Homo sapiens: one gene and its partners. The protein of the gene in region 4 interacts with the protein of the main gene of each other region in a pairwise test. Each region holds a gene or a part of one and is shown on either strand. Other genes may lie near its edges.

Region 1 (3,500 bases), on a different chromosome or scaffold from region 4:
ATAGTTCCGGTTACTTGAGAGGCTGAGGTGGGAAGATTGTGATTGAGGCTGCAGGGAGCCAAAGTCACACCACTGCACTCCAGCCTGGGTGACTGAGTTAAGACCTGTCTCAAAAAAAAAAAGAAAGAAAAAGAAAACACAACGAATAAAAAAGAAGGTAGGGAGACAGATCATCACATAGAACCCCATGACAAATCTGAAACCCCAGGTCATGAGTAGAACTTAAATATTTAACCAGAAACATTTTTTACAATATAATTATATATAACCACAATTTTTCATACTTCAAAATGAAACAAAGCATATCAATACTTTTTAAAATAAAAAATGCTATTTATTTATTTATTTTTTGAGACAGAGTCTTGCTCTGTTGCCCAGGCTGGAGTGCAGTGATGCGATCTCAGCTCACTGCAACTTCCACCTCCAAGTGATTCTCGTGCCTCAGCCTCCCGAGTAGCTGGGATTGCAGGCGTGAGCTACCACACTCAGCTGATTTTTGTATTTTTAGTAGAGACGGGGTTTCTCCATGTTGGCCAGACTGGTCTTGAACTTCTGACCTCAGGTGATCCACTCATCTCGTCCTCCCAAAGTGCTGGGATTACAGGTGTGAGCCATCACACCTGGCCAAAAATGCTATTTATTTTTATATCAATCATGAAATAACAACTAGAGCCACTAGTTTTTTACCTGATGAACTAGAACGACTTCCCATGCTGCTGACTTCTTTGTCATAGCTTCCACTCTCAACCTGATCTAATTTTCTTCGTGCTATAGGAAAAAGAAGATTATTCGTCACAATTATCAGGACCATTTGCTCCTACCATCTCTGACTTTAATTGCTAAAATCACTGAGGCAAAAATGGCATAGACAAGAGAAAGTTCTTGAATACATACTTTAGGCAGAGGGCTATGTCATTCATATAAAATGTCATTTGGAAATGTAAAAGTCAAGTACAAAATATACAGAAACAACATTATAACTGACACTGGCATCACTTAATTACAGTGGAGTTAACTTTTTAAAGTATTGAAAGATTTAGAAGTTCCTTACAGTACCAGAAATTTCTTCCAAATTTCCCTTCAATTACATCTATAAAAACAAACTAAACTCTATGGCAAATATCTGAATATATTTGTATTAAGTAAATGCTAAGTCCCTTTTAGCTTATTACTATATTTCACCCTATTTTAACACAAATAAAGCCGTGAGAAATAGTAGAGAATAGGAGGTTGAAATACGTGTCTTATTTATTTTTGTATCCCAAGCATATAGCACAGACACCCAATGACTGTATGACTTTTTAAAAGAAAGAAATCTGGAATCCAGTTCAGCAGTCAATTGTTATGTCTGGGTAATTTATAACTTTCTGGGGTCTGTTTCTTGAAACCCAGGTGAAGAGTTAAGTCGCAACGATTTCCAAGTCAGAGGACGCATCTCGGGTATCTGCACCCTAGATGCCGGTAGCCTAGATGCAGCACAAAAGAAATCACAGGAATGTAAAAGAAGATATCAGAACTGCTATTTATACTGATATTTAAAAATAGATTATTTTAAATTTCTATTTTTCATATGTTCTAATATATATAAAAGACTAACACATGTTTAAAATGTATAAATAAACATATCTAAATTGGATAACAAATGCCTAAGCACTTTTTATTGACAGGAGTATGTGATCAAAAGTTTAGATACTAATGCCCTAACATTGCTTTCCCAATTCTCATGTTTTGTGATTCTGTGAGTAAATGTCCTTTAGCATACAAGATATCCTTTAGGATAAAAGATCGGTCATGAAATTCCAAGAAGTTTAACAATTTGGTTTACTAATATTAACAAAGAAAACATACAGCTTCAATCAATGTGGCAGAATCACAAAAAATAAAATCCTAATGATTAAAAGAAACAAACACATTCATGGTCTAAGTGTGGAAGAATTTTATACCTTGCTGAAGTTGTTTGGTGAGATCCTTGATACTAGAGGCATGTTTACGTCTCTGAGTTACTAACTCATCTTTTAATTCTTCTACCTGGGTACTCAATGCTTTAACTTCTGTTTGTCTACAAGCGAGTTCAGCTTGCAGAGTTTGGACTTCCTCTTTTCGCAGTTCTTCCTCTTTCAACAACCTACTTTCCTGAATAGTAAGTAAAACAAAAACCACCAATTTTAGTATGTTTGTTTCCATTAATGCTCAGTTTATATAACCTTAACAATCTAAGGTTCTTGACAGTGGAGATTCTTCTATTATTATTCCTTATCAGCTTTTGTTTACTTGAGCTTCTCACAGTTCTCATATAGAAAAGCAGGGGGATACATTAAGGAGAATGTCATTCTATACATACCAAGCAACATGTGATACAGGTTGTTGAATTTTTGGACTAAAGTCTCAAATCATTTTTATGAGTAACTTGAAGACACTCTCATAAATTATAAAAATAGAAATTTAAAGTACCTTTTAAAAATATACAGTGATTCTAGTCAGGAAGGACACAAACCAGTTTTCTCATTTTCAAAAGTAAAATATTATTCATAATCATTTTAGGAAGAAATTTTATTATAAATTATAACAGTTGAGGAAAAACTGACATTTCTTACAGCAGTTGAAATTGTCAGAAAGTCAGTGTCCAGGAAAGAACTTAATTCAACTACTATTACTTTTATACTGTTAGGGAAATTTAATTTGTGCTTGTTACGTTGTTTTAAAAAAAATGTAAATTTATACTTACCAAATTAATATTTGTCTGTTTCATTTGTTCACACTGGCTTTGTAACTGACTTTCACTACAGGAAACTTTATCAAATTGTGACTGCAAAGAATTGGATTCAGACTGAAGCTGTGCATTCTTACTAGTGAGCCTTTCTGTAAACAGCAGCAGCTCAGATTCTCTTTTCCTACTGCCTTCGATGTCTTTTTGTAGGTCATTAATCAAAGAATTAAGACTTTCCACTTCTTCTTTCAAATTTTCAATTTCTTGCTTACCTCTAAAACACAAAATTTATATTTAAGAAAAAATAAACCATTAAAAGACATTAAATTAATGGTTTGGGAATTTTCATCTAGTCAAATGCTTAATAAAGGTACTTCTATTCATTCATCCAAATATTTATAAATGCCTAATATATGCCAGGAAATAAGAGCTGGAAAGAAAAGTGAGCAAGACCAACATGGCCTCTGCTTTCAAAGAGCTTTTAGTCAAGTGTGGAAATTATATGTGTAAAAAAACATTTTTTATGATAAAAGCACAGAGTGGGTTTGCCTAAACTAGTGTAAGTGATGCTCAAACTAATACTTGAAGCAGGAGTCAGCAACCTTTTCCTGTAAAAGATCAGATAGTAAATAAGTTAGGCTTCTGGGTCATATGGTTTTGCTGCAATTGTTCCACTCTGCCATTGTACTATGAAAACTGCCACAGATATTACATGAATGAGTGTGGATGTGTTCCAAAAAAACTTCACTTACTAAAAGAGGTAGTGGGCTGGATTTGTTTTGTAAGCCATGGT
Region 2 (3,353 bases), about 100 Mb from region 4:
ACAGCAAAAGGAGGCAGAGGCCCGAAGTGTTAGGGCAGGGGCAGGGAGGGACCAAGGGTAAGAGCCACAGAGGCGAGACAGCTCACTCTCTGAGCAGGAAGTGGGAAAGAGTCTGTGTGTGTGTGTGTGTGAGAGAGACGGGGGTAGGGGGGTGAGAGAGGCGGCCAGCGGCAGAGCAAAGGTGACAGCCCCACACCTCTTCTCCTCTAAACATCAGAATTTTAATTCAATAGACATGGATAATTCTTTTTACATTTGAGTTTCAAAACAGTACTTTGAATGTAGCAGGCATTCCATAAATGCCATCTGAGCAGACAGAGGGATTTGCGGCCAGTTGAATCCTAAGTGTTTGCTGAGGTCTGATACTCTGCAATTGCCTGTTTTAAGTTCAGCATCTTTAAGGTTCAGAGACATTCTTTTATGCAGTAGGCCAGAGAACTAAGAGCCGGAAAGGGCCTCTGAGATGCCCCGATCTCCCCACCTCGGGGAGGGGAGGGGTCTTTCCAGAGCCCCCACAGCCCTGCCTTCTGCATGGCCCCCACAGCCTAGACAGGGCCCCCACCAGACAGGTCCGCCTGCCCCATAGGCCTCACCACTCGGCCTCAGTCTAATGAGTTCTTCACCTGCTTCCTCGGCTTATTCTTGTAGGAGACGGGACTTCTAAAAGCAGTGAATTAAAGAAAAGATGTGAAGAGCTGGAAGCCCAACTGAAAGTGAAAGAGAACGAAAATGCTGAGTTGTTGAAAGAACTGGAGCAGAAAAACGCGATGATCACAGTGCTGGAGAACACCATCAAGGAGCGAGAGAAGAAGTACCTGGAGGAGCTGAAGGCCAAGAGTCACAAGCTGACCCTGCTGTCTAGCGAGCTGGAGCAGCGGGCCAGCACCATCGCCTACCTGACCTCCCAGCTGCACGCCGCCAAGAAGAAGCTCATGAGCTCCAGCGGGACCTCAGATGCCAGCCCGTCAGGGAGCCCCGTGCTGGCCAGCTACAAGCCAGCGCCCCCCAAAGACAAGCTACCCGAAACGCCTCGCCGCCGCATGAAAAAGAGCCTCTCAGCCCCCTTGCACCCGGAATTTGAAGAGGTCTACAGATTCGGGGCAGAGAGCAGGAAACTCCTTTTGCGGGAACCAGTGGATGCTATGCCCGACCCCACCCCATTTCTGCTGGCTAGGGAGTCCGCCGAGGTCCACCTCATCAAAGAGAGGCCCCTCGTCATCCCCCCCATCGCCTCCGACCGAAGCGGCGAGCAGCACAGCCCGGCCCGCGAAAAGCCGCACAAGGCCCACGTCGGGGTGGCACATCGGATCCACCACGCCACCCCGCCGCAGGCCCAGCCCGAGGTGAAGACCCTGGCGGTCGACCAGGTGAACGGAGGCAAGGTGGTGAGGAAGCACTCAGGGACGGACAGAACTGTGTGAAGCCCGCCGTGCCCCACCCCGCGCTGTCCATGCACTGTGAGCACCACTGGGAAATCTCAGCCACACCTTTTCTGTTTAATCCCATGCATGCCAAACACTTTTCACACCTACCGACCCATTCTCCTTCTGCTTCTCTTGCCCTCTTCTTCACACCAAAATATGATCGTGTCCCTGCCGCAGAATATGTATTTCCTAATTGCTGTGGCCAAACGCCTGTGTGCCGAATCGCTTGCTTCTGATCCCGCTCCGTGTAACCTAAGTGCGCTGCAGGCAAAGCCCAGGCCACGGCTGCGTCACTACTGATGTTCACGATGCCACACAGTCACACACCTAATTCATTCTCAAGTCGGAGCAACACATACCAACCTTGACCTTATCCTCAAGCTCCAGGGCAGCCTGGCCGAGCAGCCCCTGCTCCCTCCTGGAGACCCTTGTCACCTCCCGAGCTCCTCCTGGAGACCCCTGTCACCTCCTGACCAACCTTTCCCAGGGCGGCACCGATCACCGAGCAGCCGTGCGTGTATCTCAAGGAACTAAATAAGATGACGCTACTCCTCATAGCACCACAACCTGAATGTGTGTTCATATTTTTTTGTTAGTTTTATCCAAAATGTTTAAGATCCCAACAAACTTTATTTTCTAAACCTGCCTTCCTTCTGTTTTGTGTCTTTTATTAAACAAACACCTGAAGGAGGGCTAGGAGACTGCAGGAGGGAGAGCAATCACAGGTCCCAGAAGCGACTCCGGCCTCCTCCCGGCCCAGAGCTAGTCCTTAGAATGTGCTGCGCTCCTGAGCTTCTGTGGGAAGCTGCTTTTGCCTCTGATGGCCCCTGCCCACTGTGCTGCCCGTGCTAGCCCCTCTCCTCCCTCATGGAGTGAAGCCACCCCTCACCTCCAGGTGGCCAGCCAGGGCTCCAGGCCAGCCTCATGGTGCACAGAGGGAAGGGGTGCCCAGTGACCACTGGTCCTGGAGGTTCTGTGTCCTTACCTGACCCCACACAGACCCAGGCAGGCTGGGGGTAGAAGCTCATGCAGGAACTAAACACTAAGCTCAACAACTTCACAGTCGCCGTAGCAGGTCAGAGCCAAAGAAGCTAGGGCCAGAGAGTTCTGGAAGGGGGAGAAGTGGCTCCAGGTGACTGGTCACTTCTGCTCTGTGCCCGACATCATCAGCCCTTCTTGCCAAAAAGGAGCATCTGCTGAAACAGACCTGGATCATCGAAAACACACCTTTGGAAATTACATTAGGATTCTCACTTGTGCCAATGCTATGTATGCCAGGCACTTTTGCCTAATCAAGTGTTTTCTCTGAGAAGGAAAAGAAAACTCCACACATCTTAAAATACTCTCCAATATTTACTTTTTGATTATATAAATTCCTTTTAAAAAGTAGTATTAAAAACAAAACCATTCAGGTTAATTTGTATGGAAAGAGATTTAAGTGGCTGATTTCAAATGAAAAATCAGTGTCAGTCCCCCTCCTGCCTCTTGAGAGGCCCCAAGAAATGACAGCAGACCCGATCACTCTGACAACCCCAGGCTCCGAATTCATTAAGCAGTTTTCTTCACCCAAAGGTTAATCAGAATTCAGGGTGAGGCATACTCCTTGCAGCACCCAGTGAGAAATGTGCCTCGTGGTAAAGAGATCAGCTTCAAAAACCAAGCCGACTCCCATGGCGTTCCTTCTCATGGAGGTGGTGTAGACGGGGGTCCGGAAAGTATTCTGCAAGGGAAAGGCAGGTGAGATGCCCCCACGGAGAGAGGGTGCAGAGGGATAAAGGCAGAGGTGCAGTGTAAGTCTTGACAGGCAGGGGCCCCTGTGCAAGACTGCACCTGAGAACACGCACAAGGCTGGGGCTGCTCAGGGCCACCCTCCGCCAGCTTCACGGGGACCTGGCTTCACACTGACACCCTGGTTAAAAGTGGGTCCTG
Region 3 (4,122 bases), on a different chromosome or scaffold from region 4:
TTTAGGCATACTGGCTAACCCAGCACAAACTGGCATTGCAGAAAGAAGCCAAGAATAAATAACAATTTACCGTCCAGTGTGAACTCACAGTTTAGCATCCTGTATCTATGAGACAGATTTTATTCTGTAAAATCTTGAACAATGTTTTATGTTCAAGGCCCACGATTTACATGTAACACTTGAAATAAGTTACTACAGTCAAATGTACTAAAAAGAAATCTCACTGTTATAAAAAGCTCAGTTTGTACTTCGGGCACCTTGCAAACGAAAGAACAAGGAGCAAAGATCTTTCAGCTAGCCACGTTATAAAATGGTGGCTAGATACACAATCCCTATTTGTTCGTAATGAGCCACTAGTTAAATTTTATCCAACACATACTTCTAGGAATCTGAGAATCTAAGGCCTAGAAGGAATTTTGGTGCTTATTAACATCCGCATTTAATAGGTAAGAAATCTGAGGCCCAAAGGATTTCTGTTAGTGGCAAGGCCAAAACTTAGAGGTTCCCTGCCTCTCAGGCAAGAATAGAGTTTACTACTCCCATCTCTTGAATTCTGGTAAACAGCTAAATAAATGCTTTCATCATATAATATTCATTGTCTCAGTCCTCTAAGAATATTATGAGATTTTTCCCCATCAACCAATCCTTAATTACACAGTCTCCACAAGATGTCTGCCACCCTTTTCTCTCTCATACACTGTTGGCAAAACTTCAAATTTCTTCATTAATTTAACCTGTTGTCAATGAGTGGCTCTGGGCCCCTATACTTCAATATATTTGGGAGAGGAAGTAAGTCTCACCCTGACCCAGTTCCCAGTTGCCAGAAATGCCAGGACTGGCATGGATTTTTTTCGGGTAATTTTTTTTTTTTTTTTTTGAGATGGAGTTTCGCTCTTGTTGCTCAGGCTGGACTGCAACGGCACAATCTCGGCTCACCGCAACCTCCCCCTCCTGGGTTCGAGTGATTCTCCTGCCTCAGCCTCAGGCATGTGCCACTACGTCCAGCTAATTTTGTCTTTTTAGTAGAGACGGGGTTTCTCCACGTTGGTCAGGCTGTTCTTGAGCTCCCGACCTCAGATGATCCACCCGCCTCGGCCTCCCAAAGTGCTGGGATTACAGGCGTGGGCGGCCGCGCCCGGCTTTCAGGTAAATTTAATGGCACTAGATCATCCTGAAGAAAGTCCTTTCCCAAGATCATGACTATGTTCCTTTCTTCCCCTCTCAGCACCATTTGAGCAAATGATTGGTGGAGCAGTGGGGAAGGACTGTGGCAGTCAGGAGACTCAAGTGCTAGACTCAGCTTTGCCTCCAAGGAGTTTGTGGTCCTGGGCAAGTCTCTCCCACTCTCTGGATCCCAGCTTTCCTGGCTGGACAGCAAGGACTCTAAGGTCTTTACCTGCTCTAATCTTTTCTGGTTCTACAAACATTTGATGCAGCTTTAATGGGACCTCAGGGAAGTAGGGAGGTCTGGGAAGAAGGGTCTTTTGAAGCCCCAGCACATAGGCATATGAACCGGATGCCCTTAAGAACCACTGAAACAGAGATCTAACAAAACTCTGAGGAAGGGAAGAGGACAGCCCCTCTGAATATAGTCCTAGCCCACACCAGATTCCCTCTTCCCCTCCACAATGAAAGCAAAAATGGAGTTAAATATCAGTTTTTGCCCAACCACTTCAGGCTACTTTCCTTCATCTGCGGGTTATGGGTGGCAGCGTAGAAGTGTGGGCTATTGCCATCAGTGCCTGCTGACCCAACCTAACTGCCTTCTAAGGCCCTTTTGCTTATGCCTCCCAGCTGAGGACAAAGTCATGGGGGCCTCCCACTCCCCAGAGGCCCTAACCAGGCTTAAGCTGCTCCTGGCTAAGTCAGAGAGGCATCAAAATGCAGCCACCACTTCCTCTCTGCAAAAGGAAGTCATTCCAAGGTCTCCAGGTGGAGAAGGGAACACCATGGCATAAAATGAACTGTTGGAGGATTATACTAAACACACACACAAGCACACACTCCTTGGGAGGGAGAGAAGAGCTCTGTTAACTGACTGTGGCCCAAGCCCATTTCCAGAATGTGGGTTTCTGCAGCTGTCTCTCCTTGACAAAGCCCCAAGTGTGGACAGGGTGACCCCAGCCCGGACAAGGAAGGGCTTTAGGGCTCCCTCAGGCAGCTTCCTGAGAGAGAGAGAGTGGCTCTCTGGCCCTCATGCTCTGGGGCTGACCAGGGAAAGGAGTTGCAGAAAATCTAGTTGGGGGCAGGGGGGAGTCATGCAGCTCTCCCATAAGGCCCCCTCCACAATTCCAGGCTTTGTGACCGTCCCCTCCCCCCACAACCCCGTGCCAGCTTGTCAGCCTCCTGCGAGCTTCACTGCTTCCAGAGAAGCCCTCTGCCATCCCCCTTCCCTCTCTGGCCTCCCAAGTGACCCCTGGGATGTTCCTGGGCACATAATCTGGCCCCCACCCCTATTCCACCTTAATCTCAGAGGGAGATAGAAAAGTGGAGGGGGATGGTAGGGGGGTTTCCTGGGCAGGCAGGCTAGCAGGGACTCCTAAAATGGCCACAGCAAGCTCACTGGTGTCTCAAGGACGGCGGCTAGGGCGGTGGGCAGAGGCCAGGGTGCTCACTGCCTTGTGGCTCGTTGGAGGAACTGGAGGTGGGGCTGGGGGACTGAGAGGCTCAAGCAAGGGAAGCCAAGGTTACATGCACTCACCATTCCCGATCCGCCCCTTATCCACTGCATGGTGCTTGCGAAGTCCGGCTTCTCTGAGGCCCCGTAGCTGGCGCGAGTTGTCGCGGGCTGACTAGAAGGGCTGGGCTGAAGCAAGCGAGAGCCCCAGCGCCCCCTCCGCCGCCCCTCCTCCACAGCCCTACAACCCAATCCCCTCCGCCCCGGACCTCGCCTTCAGTCAGTTTGTTCCATGCCAACCGGCAGGCTCTGTCTCTCCGCCCTGCTGCTCCTAGAGGTCTTGGCAGGGAGAGGTGCGAGTGTGGGGGGGTCCTAATGGGCTGCTTTTGTCCCCCACCAAGGCTTGAGAACTGTGGGGGTGGGGTGCAGGGAGAGGATGGGGGCGAATAGCCTCCGCCCGCCCAGGAGAAGGCAGCTGCTACCTCTGCCTGCCTCCCGCTGCGCTGGAGTTAGATGCTGTTTATTGTGGGGCTTCCCAATTGTGTCGAGTCAGCGGAAAGTCCTTTCCAAAGTTACCAGAGGTGTTGTGCCAATCTCCAGAATAATAAGATCCTGCCCCAGTGGAGCCAAGCCAGCACTCTCATGCCTCCCTCCCCCACCCTCCCTCTGCATACTCCCCTAGGGTCTTCTCTCTTTGTGTACTATCTGAGAGCTTTCATCTGCATTACTTTCACTTCTCAGAACAACCCTGTAGAGGCAGCCATTAGTATCTCCAAGTTATAGATAAATAAATGGAGGTTTGGAAGAGGGAAGGGGCATAAGGTCACATTAAAGAAAAAAAAAAGATAAATCCTCGACTTTACCCTCTGCGGCTTTCCAAGCCTCTTTCGGCTATCTCTCCCTTTCTATCTCACACACACCACTCCAGGCTTCTCCTTCATGCCCTTAGGAACATGAAAGGTAGCTTGTTGATGGACGAATTTTCCATTTGCTTATTTTGCTGAGAATGAGTTGAATGCACATCAGCGAAACAGGCAAACGGAGAAACCACCCACCTCTTTATGATTCCCCCAACTCTGGGGAACACAACACAGGCTGGTACCTTTGCTTAGGCTAAAAATTGACTTTGTCAGTCACACTAACATCTGTTATTATCCCTTATAATCCTCACAGTAACTCTATGAGATGGACACAACAAGGATTCTTAATTGCCCACCATTACAGACTTGAACACTGAAGCCCAGAGATTGAAAGACTTCTGCTTAAAGTAGCACAGCCAAACAAGACAAGAATCCAAGGCTCCTGACTAGAAGAGCAGGTCAGGCAAAGACAGAATTGCAAAAACAGAGGTTGCAACCAAAGTAAAAGGAGTTACAGTATGATATTAGAAAGAAGTTCCTGGAGATAATTGACATGAAGACATCACTGGCCTGTTACACGTACTTTATTTGTCCTCTTCTTTTTAGCACAACTTCTGCACTTCATCCAACCTGTTGTTTTGTCCA
Region 4 (3,500 bases):
TTGGAATCGTCCAGCTTCATCAGAATATGACCACAATTACCTTTTTTTTTTTTTTTTTTTGGTGCTTCTGTGTATATTCCTGGGTAATAGAGGATTATTGGTCATTAGCTATGTGGTACTTAAAGTTTTGATCTTTGATTATCTGTGCTGAGAGATAACAAACAAAAAAAAATCTGAGTTACGTGAACATCTTTTTTTTTTTTTTTTTTTTAGTGAACCTTGTTCATGTATATTTTGACCAGGGCTGTTTATAGGTAGCAAAAGTGATGTAAAGCTAGGCACAATTTGATAAACAATGACGGTCAGGGAGTAAAAATAGAAATAGTTACTGAATATTTCATGAGCATATATTGGAGCATTGTTTGTATTTTTGCCTCAGTTTATTTAAATATGTCTAAGTCAAGATGTTTTATTGATATGTTTGTTTAAAAAAGGCTTTTAGTAGAGCTTGAGAGAAAAGATGACCAGTCAGTCCCAATCTTAAAACCAGTTCTTTAGAATATTAAACTAATTTATGTTCAAACTTAATAACTTAGTACTACTTGGAGACAAATACAAAGCTGGAGGTCAACATCATGTAGGAAAAATTTTAATCCCCCAACGAAAAATATGGGTGGTTTTGTCTTTTTATTTTTATATTAGAAACTATTTACCTAAGAGTTTGTTTTTATTGTTTAACCTTATTTGTTCTTTAATTTTAATAAACTGAGACATGAAAGAGAATGCTGAAATGCCAAACTGGGTTAAGACTTCAGTAGTTTATAAACAATAACAGATACCTAGCTAAAGTTACCTTTATTTCATTGAGCCTAGAAAGTTATTTTTACTGTGACATTTTTAAGATCATGTTATACTTCCAGTAAATTATAATTACCTGTATGGTTCTTTAATCTTTTAGAAAGATACTTAGATAAAACGTCAAGGGCTTTTTTATAAGTATTAGGAATGCTTGCTTTTGGATGTAGAAATAGAGAAAGCAGAAGATACAGGAATGGAATAGTTTCATGGTATGGTCTTTCTGTGAATATTTTTGGGTGAAATCTTTTCTTTGGAGATTATACTATACATTATTAGATGGCCTAAAAAAATACTTGAGTGAAATGCAGTCATCAAATGTTTTTCTATTGGTTATTTCCATCCTAAATTAAAGTGAGTTGATATTGCCACGAAAAGGGATACTTCTTTTCTTGTCAAGCTAGTAGTATGGTATATGTGAAGAAAAACAGTTTTTTCATTTCAGGTCATTTATTCAATGTAATTTTGACTACTGTACATTAAGCCTAGCTCATCTTATAAAAACAGAGGTAACATTTCAATTTTCAATAACATTTTAATTTCTTTGCGTGCATTCTTGGATGAATGTTTATTTGATAGTACAAAATCTTATTCTGTGTGGGCTGAGTATGTATGTTTTAATTTAGAACTAAGCTGTTAGGAAGACATTGAGTGAGTTTCTTTTGTTTTACGAGCCATTTTGATTAGGTTTTCTTTTATGTTTACTTAAACAAATTAGAATTTTATTTGAGTGCCATGTCTAATGCCTAAGTAGGTTTCTCTGGAAAATTAAGACAATATTAAGAAAGCTATAATAATTTTACTTTAAAGACATTTTTAAACTTGTAGGTTTTAATCATTTTGGTATTCATAGCCAGTAATTGTGTCCAAAAGTAGCAATAAATAACTTATAATATTATGGAAGTAATTTCTCCTAAAATTGAGCATAGTGTTGCATATCACTCATTAAACTTTTAAAAAAACTAACCATTGATAAATATATGATGTACTGAATGTTAGGTGCTACTGCTTTATCTTCTGGGTAATGTCAGAAGACTAATTTCTTTTAAGGTTAGTTAAATCCCTAATGTGCACTGTAATTTCCTAGAAACTTTTTACTTGTTTGTATTGTTATTTATCATTCTAATAGGATAGGGGCACTACTTTTATCTTAAACTTTACAATTTAGAGTACCTTCACATACATTATTCATTCATGAAGTAGTCAGAGTTACTACTCCCATTGTCACACACATAATAAAACAGCAGAAACATGCCTTTGGAACTTACAGTTTGCAAAGACAGCAGGATGAGAAACCCCAGGAACATAAACTATATTTAGAATATTCAGAGTGGAGGAAAAGATAGGAGTCTGAAGTAGGAAAGTGATTCGTGTTGGTGGCTATAGTTTTTCATTGTCATTTCTTTCTCAGATGAAGAAAGGTGGTTATTGATCAAATTGTATGTAAAGGAGGTTACAGGGTTATCGGGGTGGATTTTGTTCACATGGGAAGTGGAAAGATAGGAATGCCAATAAAAGACATGTCAGCCCTTTGACTATTCCTAATCCTGTGTTCTGGAAAGTTCTCACTGCAAGAAGGGAGACCTAAAGAATTTCAGTTGTTTCTGCTTCCATTGTGAAGTGAAATATATATAACTCTTAAATTATTCCTCTCCTGGACAAATGTTGGTTGGTGTTAAAAATGGCAGGTTACCAGAAAGAATTTATCTCTTAATTATATTTTGGTATTGACACTTGCATCTCTGTAGGTGGTAAGAGGAGAGGATTGTAGTGGGGAAGTCATAGGAACTGAAATGTGGTCTTGACCTTAATGACTTTGGAGCTCAGTCTTCACGTCTTTAAATTAGGTTACCTGGAAAAGGCAACCTCTAAATTCCATTTCTAAATTTCTTTGAATTTTGTACTGTTCTGGGATTTATAATATTCTGGAAAACAAGGAACTCACAATGCCAAGCAGAGATGATGCGGGAAATATGGAAAGCTAGCTTTTCTATCCTTCTTAACTATTTTATCCTCCCTCTTTAAGCTTTGGATAGACAATCACAGATAAGTATGATGTATGTAGTGCCAGGGTTGTGTGTACTTTCTTTTGCTGCTTTTTGTGCTTACGTTTCCTTGTAAAATGTTTGTATACATATCTTCATGTAAACAGATAGTACTGCTAATGTAAACAAAGGACCTGATCAGCGTAAGAGTTGTATAGGTTTGAGTTAATCAGTTTATTTTATACACTTTGAAATTGGTTCTTTAATACAAGTTTGCAGCTAGATTAAAAAAATATGTAATATAGAGAATGTATTTTCCTTCACATCCATTTGGCCAAAAAACAGTAAAATATGAAAAATCTTACTTTGTTTTTTTTTTTTTTTTTGAGGGGGGTTTCACTGTGTCACCCAGGCTGGAGTGCAGTGGCTCTATCACAACACACTGCAGCCTTGACCTCCTGGGCTTAAGCGATCCTCCCACCTCAGCCTTACGAGTAGCTGGGACCACAAGTGTGTACCACCATGCCTGGCTAATTTGATTGATTGATTGATTGAGAGAGACAGGGTCTTCCTATGTTGCCCAGCCTGATCTTGAACTCCTAGGCTCACGCAATCCTCCTGCCTTGGTCCCCGAAAATGGGGGATTATAGGCATGAGCCATGGTGCCTGGCCAAAAATCTTTATCTTTAAAGATATTTAATACTTTTTTTCTGAATAATT

The links.
Region 1: the proteins of PLEKHA5 (region 4) and CCDC186 interact in a two-hybrid assay, tested with the Homo sapiens proteins (one large-scale study listed by BioGRID and IntAct).
Region 2: the proteins of PLEKHA5 (region 4) and CCDC92 interact in a two-hybrid assay, tested with the Homo sapiens proteins (one large-scale study listed by BioGRID and IntAct).
Region 3: the proteins of PLEKHA5 (region 4) and ARHGEF9 interact in a two-hybrid assay, tested with the Homo sapiens proteins (one large-scale study listed by BioGRID and IntAct).

Annotation. Positions count from the first base shown.
Region 1 is NC_000010.11:114,129,204-114,132,703, forward strand, and holds part of CCDC186 (coiled-coil domain-containing protein 186), read right to left. Parts: intron 3,316-3,500; coding exon of another isoform or gene 3,189-3,315; exon of another isoform or gene 2,982-3,188; coding exon 2,726-2,981; intron 2,134-2,725; coding exon 1,944-2,133; intron 1,467-1,943; exon of another isoform or gene 769-1,466; coding exon 688-768; intron 1-687.
Region 2 is NC_000012.12:123,935,126-123,938,478, reverse strand, and holds the end of CCDC92 (coiled-coil domain-containing protein 92), read left to right. Parts: intron 1-648; coding exon 649-1,421; 3' UTR 1,422-2,853; downstream 2,854-3,353. Other genes in the region: DNAH10 (dynein axonemal heavy chain 10), read right to left, coding at 2,998-3,144.
Region 3 is NC_000023.11:63,782,415-63,786,536, forward strand, and holds the start of ARHGEF9 (rho guanine nucleotide exchange factor 9), read right to left. Parts: upstream 2,801-4,122; 5' UTR 2,732-2,800; coding exon 2,702-2,731; intron 1-2,701. UniProt on the Homo sapiens protein: Acts as a guanine nucleotide exchange factor (GEF) for CDC42. Promotes formation of GPHN clusters.
Region 4 is NC_000012.12:19,132,733-19,136,232, forward strand, and holds part of PLEKHA5 (pleckstrin homology domain-containing family A member 5), read left to right. Parts: intron 1-3,500.